2 separate regions of the Homo sapiens genome follow, and region 2 is linked to region 1. The links come from fine-mapping of genetic effects on gene expression. Tissue or cell type: nasal epithelium. Region 1 holds a variant in brackets; the other region holds the start of a gene. All regions are shown on one strand. Distances are from middle to middle.

Region 1 (8,107 bases):
ACAGAGACAACTCATCTGCCATCAAAAGCCGTGGAGAGCCTACGGAGCCCATTCGTCTCTGCAAAAAGCACAGTGCAGACTCATTCTAGGAAATGCTGTGTTGATCCAAATGAACTTCTCATTCACAAGACCTGTTCTTTCTCTCTATTCCTTCTCAATGGACTTTTATTTTTCCTCTTCTCCTGTTTTTATATTTAACTTGGCTATCTTCAGGACTGAACACATATTAGAATCTAAGGGCATCTGCTCTGTTAACTATTTGGATACAAAAATAATATTATACTTCTATTTCATGTTTCATATGTTAAAATATGAACATAAATATATACAAATACACATGCACATCGCTATGTATAGCATCTATTGCATATATGTGTGAGCCCACACATATCTAACAGCTATACATTTCTCATGGGTAAAGTATTTGTACACAGAAATCACCCACATGCTGTATCTATGATTATATAATGAAAACAACATTCTCAGGAAGAAGAATCCTTCTGTTCCCATGAATGTTTCCCAGAGCAGATGGAGATTTATGCAGCTTGATGGGCACATGAGCTGAGCTTACCTTCCGCTTTATTTCTTCTGTTCAGATGGTTTCTTAAAAATCCTGTTCTAACAGAACTAAAAATAAGTAGTCTGCACTGAGCCCACATGCTTCTCAAAGTTACAGAATGATAGGGCAGGAATACAGGATTCCCAGTCCCTCTACACTGACATTTTAAAGAGCACCATTCATAGGTCCACAAGCAATATGGAAGGGCAGGCAGCTCAATGAGCTTCTACTCTAACAAGACAGGTCTAGGATTCCATTCTTTTCAGCCCACTTAAGGAACACTGGGGTTTGCCATGTGAACGACTGGGTGGCAGTGAGCAGGTTCAATTATGAAGTCAGCCAAAATGAAGGATTGGTAGGCTACAGCCATGTTCACCTGCAGCACTGCCTCAGTCTTCTGATCGCCCCTTACTCCACTGAAACCTGAGAATGAAACAACTGGTCAATTGATGTCAGGCTCCCTGGGACACATCTTTCATGCCCTAAACCCGGGCTGGATATGAAAAAGTCCCTAGGGGGCCTTAGTATTAGATGGCAAACATTGAAGGAATTCTGCCCAAGTGGGGCTAGCAGATCCAAGAAACAGAACAACAGAACTGGAGAAAGTTAGAGCTGGGAGGAAGCTTCCAAATCTCCAAGCAACTCATCTTACAAATAAAAGACAATCTCATAGGATAGCTGCTTTGCCCACATTCCCAGTTATTAGTGGCTGGAATGCCTTTCTATCATATTCTCTGCAGAATTAGGAAACACTTTCATGAACAGACCTGGTAGGACATACCTATTGTCCCATAATTGCTCCCTTCGGGTGTGCTGGCAGCAATGGGATGAGATGCCACCATATTTCCAGAGCCTGTTAAAAAAAGTGAAGAGGCAAACACTTTATGTCCAGTTGCTAAAACAAAACAACACTATTCTAAGTAGCTTGAATCATCAGGGCACATTATTTTAGGTTTGATTTTCTTTTTACACTAATACAGGAGTCACCAAAACTATGACCCATCTGCCAAATCTAGCCTGCCACCTGTTTCTGTATGGCTCTTCAACTAAGATTAGTTTTCAAACCTTTAAATGACTGGGGAAAAAATCCAAAGAAGAATAATGTTTCATGACAGGTAAAAATGATACGAAATTCAAATTTCAGTATTTATGTATAAGTTCTACTGAAACACAGCCATCATTTCCATTGGTGGACAATAAAAATACTCAGTTTTGTAAGCCAGCTTTGTAGGTTTTTAGCATGTTTTAAATTTTTTATGTGTCCATTAATTTCCCCCATAAAGAAAAATAATTAAAGTGTAAACTCAAAACCTTTAGCCAGGTTTTGGACTTAAACTTTAATTATAAGGACTAATGCAATGGCCTTGGAGATCCAATTTCTTTTCTTCTTTGGTGGTTTAGCCAAGAGCTGGCTCAGCTGGACAGCAAGGCTTCTGGCTAACGCAGCATTTTTGGCAGCCTAAGCTGTTCCCAGGGCCCTTAGCACACAGATCTTGGCCTTCAAAATGCAGACTTTGGCCCTCAGAATGCATGCTCCCTGGCACTGTTACTAGGCTTGGAGATCCCCTCATAAATTTCTTCTTATTTAGGGAAATTAGGTGTTCCCTGGCCTTTCTTGGGCTGACCCATAAGTATGTAACATGTCATCAATACCATCTATGCTTTTCAACCAACTTCAAATCAAAGAAACAGGTTACCTTCAGACTGTTAAGTATGAGAGATCAAATCTTTCGAGCACAGTAACAGTGCCATGTGAAGATGTTGTGTGCAATTTGCCTGACTCTTTTTGACTTAGAACAGAATTGGCCATAGTTACAGCATAGAGCTTTGCTGCTGCAGCTGCTACTGCTGCTGCTACCAGTACTACCTCTATTACTACTGACTGATGTTTATTGCAGACTTACTGTGTAGGACAGTCTTTTAAATTCTTTCCAGGAATTTAGTCTTTTAAATTTTCAACAACCCTAGGAGGTTGATAATATTATTATCACCATTTTAAAGATGATAAAAGGGAGATGCTGAGAGATCATGTAATTTGCCTGGTCACTCTGAGAGTGGATGGATAGTGTTTCATTGTATTGGTCTCGGTGAGAACTTATTTTTTTTTTATGAAAAATTATTATTATTTCTTGGGACAGGGTCTCACTTTGTCACCCAGGCTGGAGTGCAGTAGTACGATCTCGGCTCACTGCAACCTCCACCTCCCGGGTTCAAGCGATTCTCCTGCCTCGGCCTCCTGAGTAGCTGGGACTACAGGTGCACATCACCACAACTGGCTAATTTTTGTATTTTTAGTAGAGACAGGGTTTCACCATGTTGGCCAGGCTGGTCTTGAACTCCCCACCTCAAGTGATCAGCTTGCCTTGGCCTCTCAAAGTGCTGGGATTACAGGCGTGAGCCACCATGCTTGGCCTAAAAAATGATTTTTAATTGTATATATTAAGATGTACAACATGATGTTTTGATATTACGTGCACATAGTGAAATGATTGCTATAGCTAAGCAAATTAACATATCCATCACTTTCCATAGTTCCCTCTTTTTTGTTGTTATAAGAGCACCTAAAATCTACTCTCTTCACAAATTTTCAACATAGAATGCAATATTATTAACTATATATATTCTTCCTACTGTATACTAGACTTATTCATCCTACCTGCCTGCAGATTTGTACCTTTTGACTTACAGCTCCTAATTTCCTCCCACTCCCTGTCCCTGATATTCACTGTTCTACTCCTTATTTCTATGTATTTTACTTTTTAAAAGATTTCACATATAAGAGAGACCATGCAGTACTTTGCTTTCTGTGTCTGGTGTATTCCACTTA[G/C]CATAACATCCTCCATGTTTATCCATGGAAGGCATATTGTTGCAAATGGCAGCATATCCTGCTTAAAGGCTGAATAACCTTCTGTTGTATTAGACAAAACTTATCTTTTTAACTGAAAAGACAGGAATTTTCCTTCAAACAAGAACAATTGGTAGTAAATATGTTACTTTCATATAGTGCTCAAGAATACCTTTCTAAAGAGACAAAGAGGTTGAGGCTCATTTGCATCTCCACTGTAATAAACTCACATTTTAAAAAAGCACAGCTTTTGCTTTTTAGATTGGCAGCTGCTGCCTGCCAATGATTACCCACTGGCGTGGGTCATCCTGCATCTTCTTTCTGTTTAGTTTATTGCAGGGAGTCTCATGGAACCCCTGGGTTGCTCTTATTCCTAGATGATGTTGTAGGTCTTTTACATTCCCCTCAGTATCTTTCACATTTTTCTCTTTTCAAGCTCCCTATTTTATTTTATTTATTTATTTCTTGAGACTGGGTCTCACTCTGTTGCCCAGACTGGAGTGCAGTGGCACAATCATGGCGCACTGTAGCCTCAACCACCGGGTTCAGGCGATCCTCCTGCCTCAGCCTCTTGAGTAGCTGTGACCACAGGGTCATGCCACCACACCTGGCTAATTTTTCAAAAATTATTTGTAGAGACAGAATCTCCCTAGGTTGACGAGGCTGGCCTCCAACTCCTTGACTCAAGCAATCCTCCAGTCTTGGCCTCCCAAAGTGCTGGGATTACAGGTGTGAGCCACCATGCCTGGTCTAAGCTCCTTATTTTAAGTCACTAACCTATGTCCTTATTTGAAATGTAATTTTGAAAATTATTAAATGTGCAAATAGTAAATGAAGAATGACACTAAAATCACAAAATGCTGAGAATATTATCATATATTTTACCATATATTTTATCATATAATATTACCATATGTTTTAAAGATGATAAAAGGGAGATGCTGAGAGATCAAGTAATTTGCCCAGTCACTCAGATAGTGGATGGATAGTGATTCCTTGAATTGGTCTCAGTGAAAACTTGTTTCTATAAAAAAAGATTTTTTAATTGTATATATTAAGATGTACAACATGATGTTTTGATGTTACGTGCACATAGTGCATTTTGGTGTCACTGGAAGTCCTCTGATATGGGAAGTTGAAGTTTGTATAAGAAAATACTGGAGGTCAGTTGTAGCAGGAGGTCGAAATTGTTCGTGGGAGCCAATGTTCTCTGTCTGTGTGTGTAATCAAAAGAAAAACAAAAACCAAAAACTAAAATCAAAGCAAGTGAACAAACAAAAACAATCAGTGTTTTGTTAGGTGACAACTTCACTAAAAAGACAAAGCCAGCTGTGTAGGTCTGTTCAGACTTTAAGGAATCACTGATTTCTGTTTTCTGCTCTGGCTCATCACTGAGCATGATCTGGTTTTGATGTTGTTGCTGGCCCTGTTCATTTTGAGGCAGCTGCAACATCATGGGTTCTGTGACAGATAAGAGCACCAAGATTTTCATGTGCAATACCATTGCCAGCATGCAAAAATGTTTTCATTCTGTGGACTTTTATATGCACCAATTAAATATGAGATTGGCCAACATGGGATAACAGTATTCTTTTCATTTTGCTTATGTCTAAAGCCTTTTAAGAATGCAAAAACCAAGGCATTTCCTTCTAAACGTCAAGTATGGTCTGGGAAGGCAAGCCATATCTATATTTAACTGTATAGTACATAGAAAGCATAATTCAACACAAAATATCAGCTTATAAGACAGACCAAGATGTTCTGGCTGGAAATAGCAGACACTTACGATTGTGAATGATCTCATCTTAATGAGGAAACTTGTTTTGATATGTGTTTCTCTGAGCTTGAGCCCCCTGCATCTGTCTACTTCACTGACATAGAACAGGATATGCTTGCACGCTTGCTTTTTATGGTAAATGCCTTATGTGAGGAGAAAAATTTCATTTCATTTTGAGCATGTTTGCGTCTTTCAGGGACTTCATATTTATAGTTGCCTTGTCCCATTATGTCTCTGAAGACTCAGCAGGTTGGAAGCTGAAGAGGGAGCCAGAAATGATGGGAACTAGCTAGCATGATTTTTTTTTTTTTTTTTTTTTTTTTGAGATGGAGTCTCGCTCTGTCGCCAGGCTGGAGTGCAGTGGCATGATCTCGGCTCATTGCAACCTCTGCCTCCCGGGTTCAAGTGATTCCCCTGCCTCAGCCTCCTGAGTAGCTGGGACTACAGGTACATGCCACCATGTGCGGCTAATATTTTGTATTTTAGTGGAGACAGGGTTTCACAATGTTGGCCAGGATGGTCTCAATCTGCTGACTGTAGGCAATCCACCCGCCTCGGCCTCCCAAAGTGTTGGGATTACAGGTGTGAGCCATCGTGCCCAGCCAAAATTTTATTTTTATGCCAATTGCCTACCTATCCCAACTTAGTGTCACGTTTTGTTTCAATAGTTGAAGAAAAAATGAAGAAAACCATCATCTTTGCAGATGGATGTAAAAGTAAAATTCCTCTAGAAGAAAAAGCTGGACAAGAAAACTAGAAAAAGAAGAGTAGAGATCTAGGACTAAAATTTGAGACCCTTTGTCACTGAATGGCCTGCGTTCCTTGAGTCCTCCAAATTCAACACTCTCCTTGTCTTATCTCCACCAGATCTTGCTCTTGGCTAAGAGGCTGGTTCAGTAATGGCTGTATCCAGGGAAGGATTGGGTTGGCCATTTGGTTCTTAAATCTACAACCGATTAGGCCTGCCAAGCTCTTGCATTTGAGAAAGTAACCTCCTCTTCTGTTGTACCCCAGTTCCTGGTGGCAACTCAAGGGGTCCCAGAGGCCTGTTGGGGAGGCTTCATTATTTTTCTCAGCTGGTAACTGAATTTCTGTAGAGGCTCTTTAACAATGATGTGAAATGTGGGGTTTCTCTCTGATAAAGCCAGTGGAGGAAATGGTTTTAGAGCACAGAGCCTTTCTTAGTACCTCTCAGATTCTCACAGATGCCCTGTCTTTGGTATTAAGGATAATTAGACAATACAGGGTCCAGTCATTCATAGTACAGTAAAAAAGTCCCTTCAAGTCCCCTGGAGCAGCTCTTTGCCAACAGTATTTCCATCTCACCCAGGCTCCAGGGTCTAATCTTCTTCTTCATCCCATGAAGTATGAAATACATTTTTTTGCTTTTTATTATAGTTGGAGCTAACATGGAGATTTTCACATACAGCTTAATTAAATCACTTCAGGCATATCAAAGAAAAACAAATGCAGAGTAGCGCACAGATTTTCTGAGTGCATCCTTCCTAACTCCAACAGAGCTGCCACCAATTTGGCAACCTGTAGGGACCTGATTCCATTTCTTCCACTTCAGTCACGTCTAAGGTGAAAGCCTTAGGCTAAGTTCCACAGATATCTAGCTCCACAATGATGTGGGCAGAGACCGTATTAAGTCTAGTGGGATCCTCTTCCCCTTTAAGAAGCTGCTTCTAGCATTTTCTCTGGATATAAGCACCCAAGGCATTTCCTGTAACTCTGAGCTCCATCGAACTTCCTGTGCCCCATGGTCATGCTGATCCTGGCCTTGGGAGAGAAAGACATTTCTGTATCCTTGTTTCTTCCCTGAATGTCTGTCACTAGCTTCCAGATATGGTCCTTACTTGCCTCTGTCTCTTGCTCCTGGTTGATTTCTCTATGCTCTGTTTGAGATGCCTAAAAAAGTCACTGGTTCTTCCCTTGGGCAGTGCTTGTCTTCTGCTCTTGGTTTAAGCATCTAGGTCTTGACTCACCAGTGGTCATGACATTGGGGGTGATGCCATCATTCCCTGTGGCCTCTCTACCTTACAAAGGTTCCTTATTTTCTTCCTATTTCAAGACTTTTGTGTGGTGAATATTCCTATTCCCTACTTCTTACCTAAGCTGGTGTGTTATTTAGGTGTCTTCATGTGTTTAGGTCCATGGTTCTCAAACAGGGGGATGTGGGGAAAGAGTTTTGCCCCCAAAAAGACATTTGGCAATGTCTGGAGGCTTTTTTTTTTTTTGAGACACGGTCTTGCTCTGTCACCTAAGTTGGAGTGCAGTGGTGCGATCTCAGCTCACTGCAGCCCCAACATCCTGGGCTCAAGCGATCCTCCCATAGCAGCCTCCGAAGTAGCTGGAGCACAGGTGCACACCACCACGCCCACCTAATTTTGTTTATTTTTTGTTTTTATGAAGACGAAGTCTTACTATGTTGCCTAGGCTGGTCTCGAACTCCTAGGCCCAAACAATCCTCCAACCTCGGCCTCCCCAAATGCTGGGATTACAGGCATGAGCAACTGCACCAAGCCTGGAGGCATTTTTAGTTGTCCCAAGGAGGGGCAACTCCTAGAATCTAGTGCACGGAAGTGAAGGATGCTATTAAACATCCTATAAGATACAGAATAGCCCCCAACAACAAAGAATTATCTGGCCTATGATGTCAATAATATTGAGTTTGAGAAACTCTGGTCTTAGAGAAGAGGACCTAATCTTAATTCTGAAAGTAGGTTTATCTGATGTGTAGGTAAATCTGTTCTTTGCAGTGACTGGTTTAACAATAAGTGTATGATTCACTCTAGGCCAATGAAACACAAGAAGTTGCTGAGGGCTTCTTAAAAGGTCCTTCCCTCTGGTGCTGCCAGGTGAAGGTGTGAGCCTTGACCCATGTCACTGCCAGCCCTGGGAGTAAATTGAAGCCAAGGGAATG
Region 2 (8,107 bases), 66 kb after region 1:
AATTAAAAAATCTATGGCAAACTAAATTCTTACAGGAAAACCTCAGAGAAGACAGCCTGTTGCCCAGTGGTTAGATTTTATTTAAGGGTTTCTTATCACCATCTAGCTCAAATAGAAACATCTGATTGTTGCTGCCAACTGTCTCTACAAGAGTATTCTCATTTCCCAGTAAACCTGCATTTGTGCCTTCTGTCCCAGTCAAACATATCCCTGGCAACTTTCCCAACAAGTTAGTTTCCTTCTAGCCTGGCTGAGCCCTGTGGTTATAGAACACCCTGTTTGCACAGTATAGCCCTCCTCCTCTTAAAGAGAGTCTCCAGACACTTCCTTCCAGAGAAATGAAATGAATCATGATCTTGCCTAACTTGCACCTCCAATTATTATTTTCATCATTCTTATTTGAAGCAGTCATTCCATTCTCTCAGTGATTTTTTTGAAGGCAACTTCATATTTACATTACCCTATGCCTGGAAGGCATATGAGACTTTTCCTGGTGCTGAGTGCAGCTAACTAGTATGACACAAGCTTGGCAAAATAGTTCTCTGGGACAGTTTGGTATGGGAGATGCAGTGGCTGACAGGAAAGATTAGGAGCAATGGCTCCCACAACAGCTTCCTGTCTTTAAGCCTAAACTTAGAATAGACTTTCTCCTCCAAGGCACAGGAAAAATAATGTCAAGCAACAATGGCTTGAAGAAAGAGGAAAACAAAGATTAAAGCTCAAAAACTAGCCATTTTTTTCCCTAAACCAAATTCTTTGTTGCACTGAAGAGGGGAGGTGGGCAATGACCCTGCAGGCTAGAAAGACTTACCTTATCAAGACTTTGTTCAGGTTAAAGGGAAACCAGTCATGTCCAAGCTTCTGCTCTAAAGATCGTAGGTCTGGGGTCATACATCTCTATTTAACAGAGCCTCTTAGTGAGTGTAGGATAAGCAATGATGGCAAAAATTGCACAACATGGGAGAGTAACAAAAATTTAGTGGGTGGGGGTCAGCATTTGAGGAGGTATGAGGGGATGGCCAAGAAGATAGTGACAAACCAGCGCCTGAAAGAGAGCGTCGCTATCTTGAAATCCCCCTGGTGGTAAATTGTCGGAACAGTATGGCCTAGGTTTCTGATTTAATCTATCACCTATCTTGTGCTGTGATGTCATTCCTCTATGTTATTCCAAACCTTCAGTAAAATTCTGCTACATCCAACAGCCTTGTGTACCTGCAAGAAGGGGCTGCTGATATCTTATGCAGGATAAGAAGAACTAAGAAGAGAGTAGGAACCGAAGGTAATGGTTTGGACAGACAGATCAAGAAAATGTCTTCTCTGGAGAAAGCAACAGGAATACTGGCTGGTAGGACAGGAGGTTAATTTCCCACAATAAGTGGCTTTTGAGGGCTCCACTACAGCATTTGCATATTAAAGATTGGTCCCAGAAGGCTGTAAGATTTGAGGACATTTGGCTTATATTGAGAATACTGGCACTAAAATAATTGAAATTCTTGTTATCTCCTGTTCCCATGGTTCCCAACTTTGTATTTCTCAGACTAGTAATATTTTAACAAAAATTCTAGGGACTGCTTGGGTCATCAACCTTTTACTGTGTCATTCAAAAATATTTTCAAAACTGTTTCATAAAATAAAGGACATGTTAACACACACAGACAAAATAGGGCATAATAGAACAATTTTTAAAATGTGTTTTTATAAAAACCAAATTTGTTTTATGAAAGAAATTTGTTTTTATGTTTTTATCTGAAATGATCTCACATTTTCCAAACTATTGAATTGAAAACAGTATACATTTCATTTTATTTAGCCTTAGCTAATAACCCTTTATTCACTTATTTGTTCATTTTTGGAAAACACTAAATGTTTTTTATAAGCCTCTCTTTTCTTTAAAAAAAAAAACATTTTGAAAAAACAGGGTATCACTCTGTCCCCAGTGGGAGTACAGTGGCAAGAGCTCAGCTCACTGCAGCCTCAAATTCCTGGGCTCAAGTGATCCTCCTGCCTCCGCCTCCTAAGTAGCTGGGACTACAGGCGCATGTGCCATCACACCCAGCTAATTTTTTAATTTTTTGTAGAGAGAGGGTCTCATTATGTTTTCCAGGCTGGTCTTGAACTCCTGGTCTCAAGCAATCCTCCCACTTTGTCCTCCAGAGTGCTGGGATTACAGGTGTGAGCCATCATGCCTGGCTTATAAACCTCTTATGTGCCATTCACTGTGCTAGGTACTGGAGGGCAGAGATGAACATGACTTTGCCCCTGCCCTCAATATCTCAAGGTTTACTAGGGAAGTCAACCAGGTGATCTCAAGTGCAAAACTCACACAGTACAAGGGGAAAATGTAAAGGCAACAATTCATAAGTAGATGCTCTATCTCTATGCAGAACTGCAAGAAATACCAAAGCCTGATGTCAGGATTTACTTAGCACATGTAATTTGAGTTTTCTTACCAATGATTTAGGGGGAAGCTGAGACTTACTCCAGAGATCATGGAGTTTTCAGACTTTTTTCTGCTCCCAGCCAATCACAGGACTAGGAACACACCTCACGTGCAACATGTCAACCAGTCGATGAGTTCTCCCACGCTAGATAGAAAGAGGCTGGGTATATGGCGTTTGGGAAACAAAAACTGCAGCCTCTCCCTTGTCTACCATGAAATGGCTCTGCATACAGCCACTCTGCTCACTACAGAACATATAACCTGAAGGTTACTGGAGGACAGAGCAGGGTGAGGGCTGTGCTGCCATGGTAACAGTGCCATAGGATTTGGTGCCACACTGGAGATGGGGCACTCAGGGCACTTTCTGGCTACACACAGCTGGAAGATGTCTAGGAGCAGTGTTAGGCACATTGGTCCCCCCTGCTCAATACAAACCACCCTCACTTTGGGAAGTGATGAGGTTTTCTAGTTCCGATCTGGAGTGAGAATCAGACGGAGGCATATCATGGTATCCCAATCATCTAGTTCTGGAATTTCCCTAGAGGGTAGGGGATGCTGGTATAGTAAGGGATACATAAACACATTTATATGGGAAGAAGATCCAGAGGTTGGTACACTGGGGAGTCTCTGTCTCTGTCTCTGTCTCTCTTTCTCTCTTTCTCTCTCTGTCTCCCTCTCTCTCCCCGCCCAGTGCTCCAGAGGTACCACACTAGAGGAAAGAAATGAACTATATGCATCTTCTTACGTTATATAATCGGAGTATATATGTCAAAGGGATAGTCACTGGAACATTTTTCCCTCCTTATCTTCCCTCAACTTTTGTCAAAAATAGGTCTAGAACTTTCACACAATTATCCATCCTTATTTAAAATCAAAACCTGGATTGATCAGCTGATGGCTGCAGTTCTCACGTCTTTGCCCAGGTCTTCTGGCGTCTCTGAAGCACAACGTGTGACAATGGCACAAAAACGCAGGAAGTGACTGTTGAATGCACAGAGGTTCTGCAGCTTCCGTCCATTTTCACACAATTTCCATTTTAGATTCTGAGCAGTTCTCCCTCCCCATGCGCTATGAAATAGAAGGGTCTGGCTGAATCAGCCACTTGAAATTAGGTTTCTTCCCTGCAGGGGATTAGGAACCGAGGTGCGGTTCTTCTTCGCACTCCACACCACACCCCGCAACCCTAGAAATCAGGACTTTCCTGGAGAAAGACCCAGCAGGGACCCAGGACCCGCAGACGGTGCGGGGAACTGGTGCCTCTGCAAAGCCCAGCAATGCCCTTGACCAGGCCAGGAGAGGCGCGAGGCGAAGCAGAGTTGTCCCCGAGGCGTGTTGAGGCAGCTAGGGCAGGGCAGCGATTGCTTCGGAGGAGAAAGGGAAAGAAAGTCCCCTGGTCCCCGAAGTCTCCCAAGGTCAATTCCCAGGGGACTCCAAAGCAGCGACGGGGCTCTGAGATCTGGCAAGTTCTAGGAGTCGAGCGAGGGGAGCGAGTGTCTTACCTGGTCGGGCTGGCTGGTGTAGTTGAAAGAGTAGATGTTCTCGGTGCTGAGGTTCACCACCCCGCTGTAGACATGATCGAAATCGGCGCCCCTGGCAGCGTCGAAGGGGTCGCGGCGCGGTGCCGGGGGCTGCCTGGGGGATTTCGCCGGGTGCCCGGGCGACGCCGCCAGCAGGAGCCAGGGCAGCGCGCAGAGCAGCGCGAGCCGCAGGCAGCCGCGCATGGTGGGCACCGCGCCCGGGCTCGAAAGCGGAGCCACCCTGGGGAGGGGGCGAGCGCAGAGAGGGTCCTTCCAAAGCCCGGTGCAGGGCCAGGCGTCCGCTTCAGAGCCGAGCGGGTGATGCCTGGCGAACCCAGCCGGCCAGGGCTGGCAGCGTGCTGACGAAGGGCCGATCAAATACTGATGCTGCCGCCTGGGGTCTCCACTGGAGGTCACGGGTGGAGAGTAGGGCGGACTGGAGAAGTGGAGATGTGGGGCTGCTGATTTTCCTCCGGCTTCTAAGTCCCCCGTTTCTCATCGCCGAGAATCCCCCCACTTACCCAGCCAGAATTTAGACCGATCTCTTCTCCCTCAACCTCAATAACAGCAATAATAAAAAGGCATTGGAGTCATTAAAAAGAAATACCCGCTAGTCTCGAAAAGTCAACCTGACGCCACATCGAGGAGGAAATTCGGTCTGTTTCAAATACGTGTGCACCCTGGCTGCAGGAGAAGAAATAGAAAGCAAAAGAGCCCGTCCCCCAAGAGGGTGCGCGAGTTCGCTTTCCCAGGCTGCTACCTGCAGAGAACTCTTGCCTGTCTGAACGATAATTACTCTCTATTCTCCCCTCTCTAATAGAACCTCTCCTCAGACACCTGTTTTATTTCTTTATTACCTCCTACTCTCCATGGAGAGTCTCACGTCATCACGTTCTCTCCCTCACCATATGTGTATGTATGTAAATATGTACAGTTAAAAAAAAAAAGATATGGTAAAGAGAACAATTTCCAGCACTGCCTGAAGTCTGGTCCCGGAAGTTGTCAAAAAACGACTCAGACTAACTAGATTTATGCAGAAGGCATTTCTTTCCACCCCAGCCTCTTACCTACTTTACCATTGCAATGACTTCTTCCAGATTCTGAGAGAAACCCCAGGATTGTTTTTTTAAAGGCAGAAACCACAGCCTATCGTAAAAAGGAAATACTTTTCTGATAAAAATTAGGGGATTAGATTTAAAGAGTTAAAGAGGCAGGTAAGGAGCAGGGTGAGAATGGGGCCATCAGAAGACCTTGCAGAACATTGAACAATCACAATTTACGTGTGGAAGAGAACTCACTGTTTTATTTCAGCTTCATTACTGTATACTATAAAAGAATGTAATTGTGTTCAACCTGAAGGACCATTTAAAAAGAAGTCATTAAGAAGGAAAAGATCTTTTTCAAAAATTTAAGATTACAGATTAAAATCCTAGTCCTTGCCATCTTTAAAGAGATAGATTTGTTTTTGTTTTTACCTTGTCTAATTCCTTTAATTTCTTAAAACATCAAGAATGAATGCAATACATTTGTTGTAAAGTTTTCTGTGAAATCAGAAAACAATGCTGATGGAAGATTAAGTTAGTAGACTCCTTATTAGGACAATTTTCAGTTTTAAAGTTTTGAATGTTCTTGGCCAGGTGCAGTGGCTCATGCCTGTAATCCCAGCACTTTGGGAGGCTGAAGTGGGAGGTGGGCTAGCTTGAGGCCATGTGTTCATGACAAGTCTGGGCAACATGATGAAACCCCATCTCTACAAAAAATACAAAAATAGCTGGGCGTGGTGGTGCATGCCTGTCGTCCTAGCTACTTGGGAGTTGAGTTGGGAGGACTGCTTGAGTCCGGGAGGTCGAGGCTGCAATGAGCCGTGAACACCCCACTGCACCCCAGCTTGGATGACAGAGCAGGACCCTATCTCAAAAGGAAGAAAGGAAGGAAGGAAGAAGGAAGGAAGAAAGGAAGGAAGGAAGGAAGGAAGGAAAGAAAGAAATTTCTTGAAAATATATGGGTATATGGGCAAAAATACTAATTCAAAGGAGAGTCTGGGGGTAAAACTTCAAATAGAACTCACTGTTTTTGAGGAGCATAACGAAATAATTTCATCCAGAATTTGAATGACTTTAAACTGTTGTATTCAAAATATCTGTGCCTCTTTTCAAAGTTCAACAACATTTCATAAACTTGAAATCTACGAAGGTCCTGGAGGTTAGCTGGTGTGACCAGTTAAAGGAGTCTCTAGGATTATGGAGTTCTATTATGGCGTTCTTTTTAAACACTATAAGAGATGAGGAACTGGTTCTTTCACAAGTCAACACCTTCTTTTGGGGGCAAGTGTCTCATTATTAGAAAGACATTTCATATTCTTAGTTGAAATCTGCCTGTCTTCTACTCACTTGTACTAGTTCTGCCCTCTGGAGTCATAGGAATAAACCTAATACTTCTTCCACATGACAGACCTGTGGGTATTTAAATGGTGCTATGACCCTTCCTTCAAGATTTTATCTCAACTTTACGCAACTAAATTGGAAGCAAATGGAACAGATCCTTCATCATAGCATGAAACCCAAAATATTTATTTTAAAGCCATTTGTATGGATTATCTATACCTAACAATTTGAGTTATATATTACAAGTCACTCTGTAATATTATCTAATCCTTATTCTAGCCAAAAGTCATTCAGTGACCTCAAGTAATTAACCTCTCAGGATCACAAGGTTGTTGTAAGGATAAAAGGGAGAATGATGTATTTGAAAGTACATTAAAAAGTTTAAAGTGTTGAATGAACAAATACTGTTATGGTGTGACTGCTAGTTCAATAGCTAAAAAATAAAATGTGGTCCATTAGGTAGGTGGTTTTTTTCTTTATTTTTAAAAGGAATTTTATTTTAAATTTTTGTGGGTACTTAGTAGGTGTATATATGTATGGAGTATATGAGATATTTTGATACAGGCATGCAATGCATAATAATCACATCATGGAAAACGAGATATCCATCACCTCAAGCATTTATCCATAATGTTACAAACAACCCAATTATACTCTTTTAGTGATTTTTAAATTTACAATTAAATTATTATTGACTATAGCCTGTTGTGCAATCAAATACTACACCTTATTCATTCCATTTTTTGGTATCCATTATCCATCCCCACCTTCCTCCCCCAGCTCTCCCACTACCCTTCCCAGCCTCTGGTAACCATCCTTCTACTCTCTTTCTCCATGAGTTCAATTGTTTTGATTTTAAAGGCAGTTTTTTTTTTTTAATATCTACAATGTCAGGATTCTACTGTGAGAGACTAAATATGCAAGTGGGCAATGGCCAGACCATAAATAGCAATACAACTAACTCTGACCCACAGTTTCTGCAGCAATCAGCTCAGGAAACAAAAACACTTTAGCAGCAACCAGTCCAAGAAATCAAACTACAACTGCTGCAGCAAATGGCCCAAAAGAATTAGGTCTTGCTCAATGAGTCAATTTCCCCAATTTTTGCCCCTGCTTCCAACTTAGGATCAATCAGAGAAAGTTAAATATGCTTCCCAAACCACAAAATGCCCTGCTCCTACTTAGCCTGCCTCCAGCTTCCAACAGCAAGATCCAGTCAGAGCATACCTGAAACCTTCCCCTTTTATAACTATGAAGTTTTCTCACTCCCCTTCCTGCCTTTGAGTCTCTACTAAGCAGAAGTGATGGTGGTCAACTCCCTTGCTAGAGCAAGCTCTGAATAATTAGCCTCTGTTTGTTTTCATTTGTGTGAGCTTCACTTGTTTCTGTAGTTTTCTTGAAGTTTCCACAGAGATACTGTCTGCACTGCATGTCACCATGGATCCCAGTTCTCTGCCAGGTGCAGTACCCACCAAGGCTTCTTGTGCCTCACTGCACACAGTTGAGTCTGCATTGACACATTGGGTCAGCACTGGTTCTGAACTCTGCTCTTTGATTTTGAGTTCTTTGGCTATTTAGTCTCACTTTGGTACCTAGGATTTGTTATCACTTCCCATTTGATTGGCATCTTTGGTGGAGTCAGGCTATTCCTTTTCATCTCTGTTTTCTCTCTTTTCTGCTTCTGTTTTGCATTGTGCAATCTGGAAGTGTTGTCATAGAGTAGAACACAGGCATAGGCCCTATAAGCCTTTAATTTGAGCTGTCCT

Evidence for each region. PIP is the estimated chance that this variant, and not a neighbour inherited with it, causes the effect.
Region 2: SIDT1 starts here. The variant in region 1 is fine-mapped to the expression of SIDT1 in nasal epithelium (TOPMed, PIP above 0.99). The same link has a PIP of 0.9 or more in cerebellar hemisphere, cerebellum, cerebral cortex, lung and whole blood.

Annotation. Positions count from the first base shown.
Region 1 is chr3:113,594,893-113,602,999 of GRCh38, reverse strand. It overlaps SIDT1 (SID1 transmembrane family member 1), which reads right to left. Exons shown (of 25, transcript NM_017699.3): 11 at 1,341-1,412. MIR4446 (microRNA 4446) reads right to left here; the gene lies at 8,058-8,107. Among named protein-coding and RNA genes, the nearest start is that of MIR4446, 4.1 kb to the right of the region's middle. The variant G/C (reference allele first, on the strand shown) is at 3,387.
Region 2 is chr3:113,529,076-113,537,182 of GRCh38, reverse strand. SIDT1 (SID1 transmembrane family member 1) reads right to left here and starts at 4,628. Exons shown (of 25, transcript NM_017699.3): 1 at 3,940-4,628. The coding sequence starts at 4,161. RefSeq lists enhancers at 3,737-3,866, 4,337-4,666, 4,807-4,996, 5,017-5,236 and a silencer at 4,017-4,066.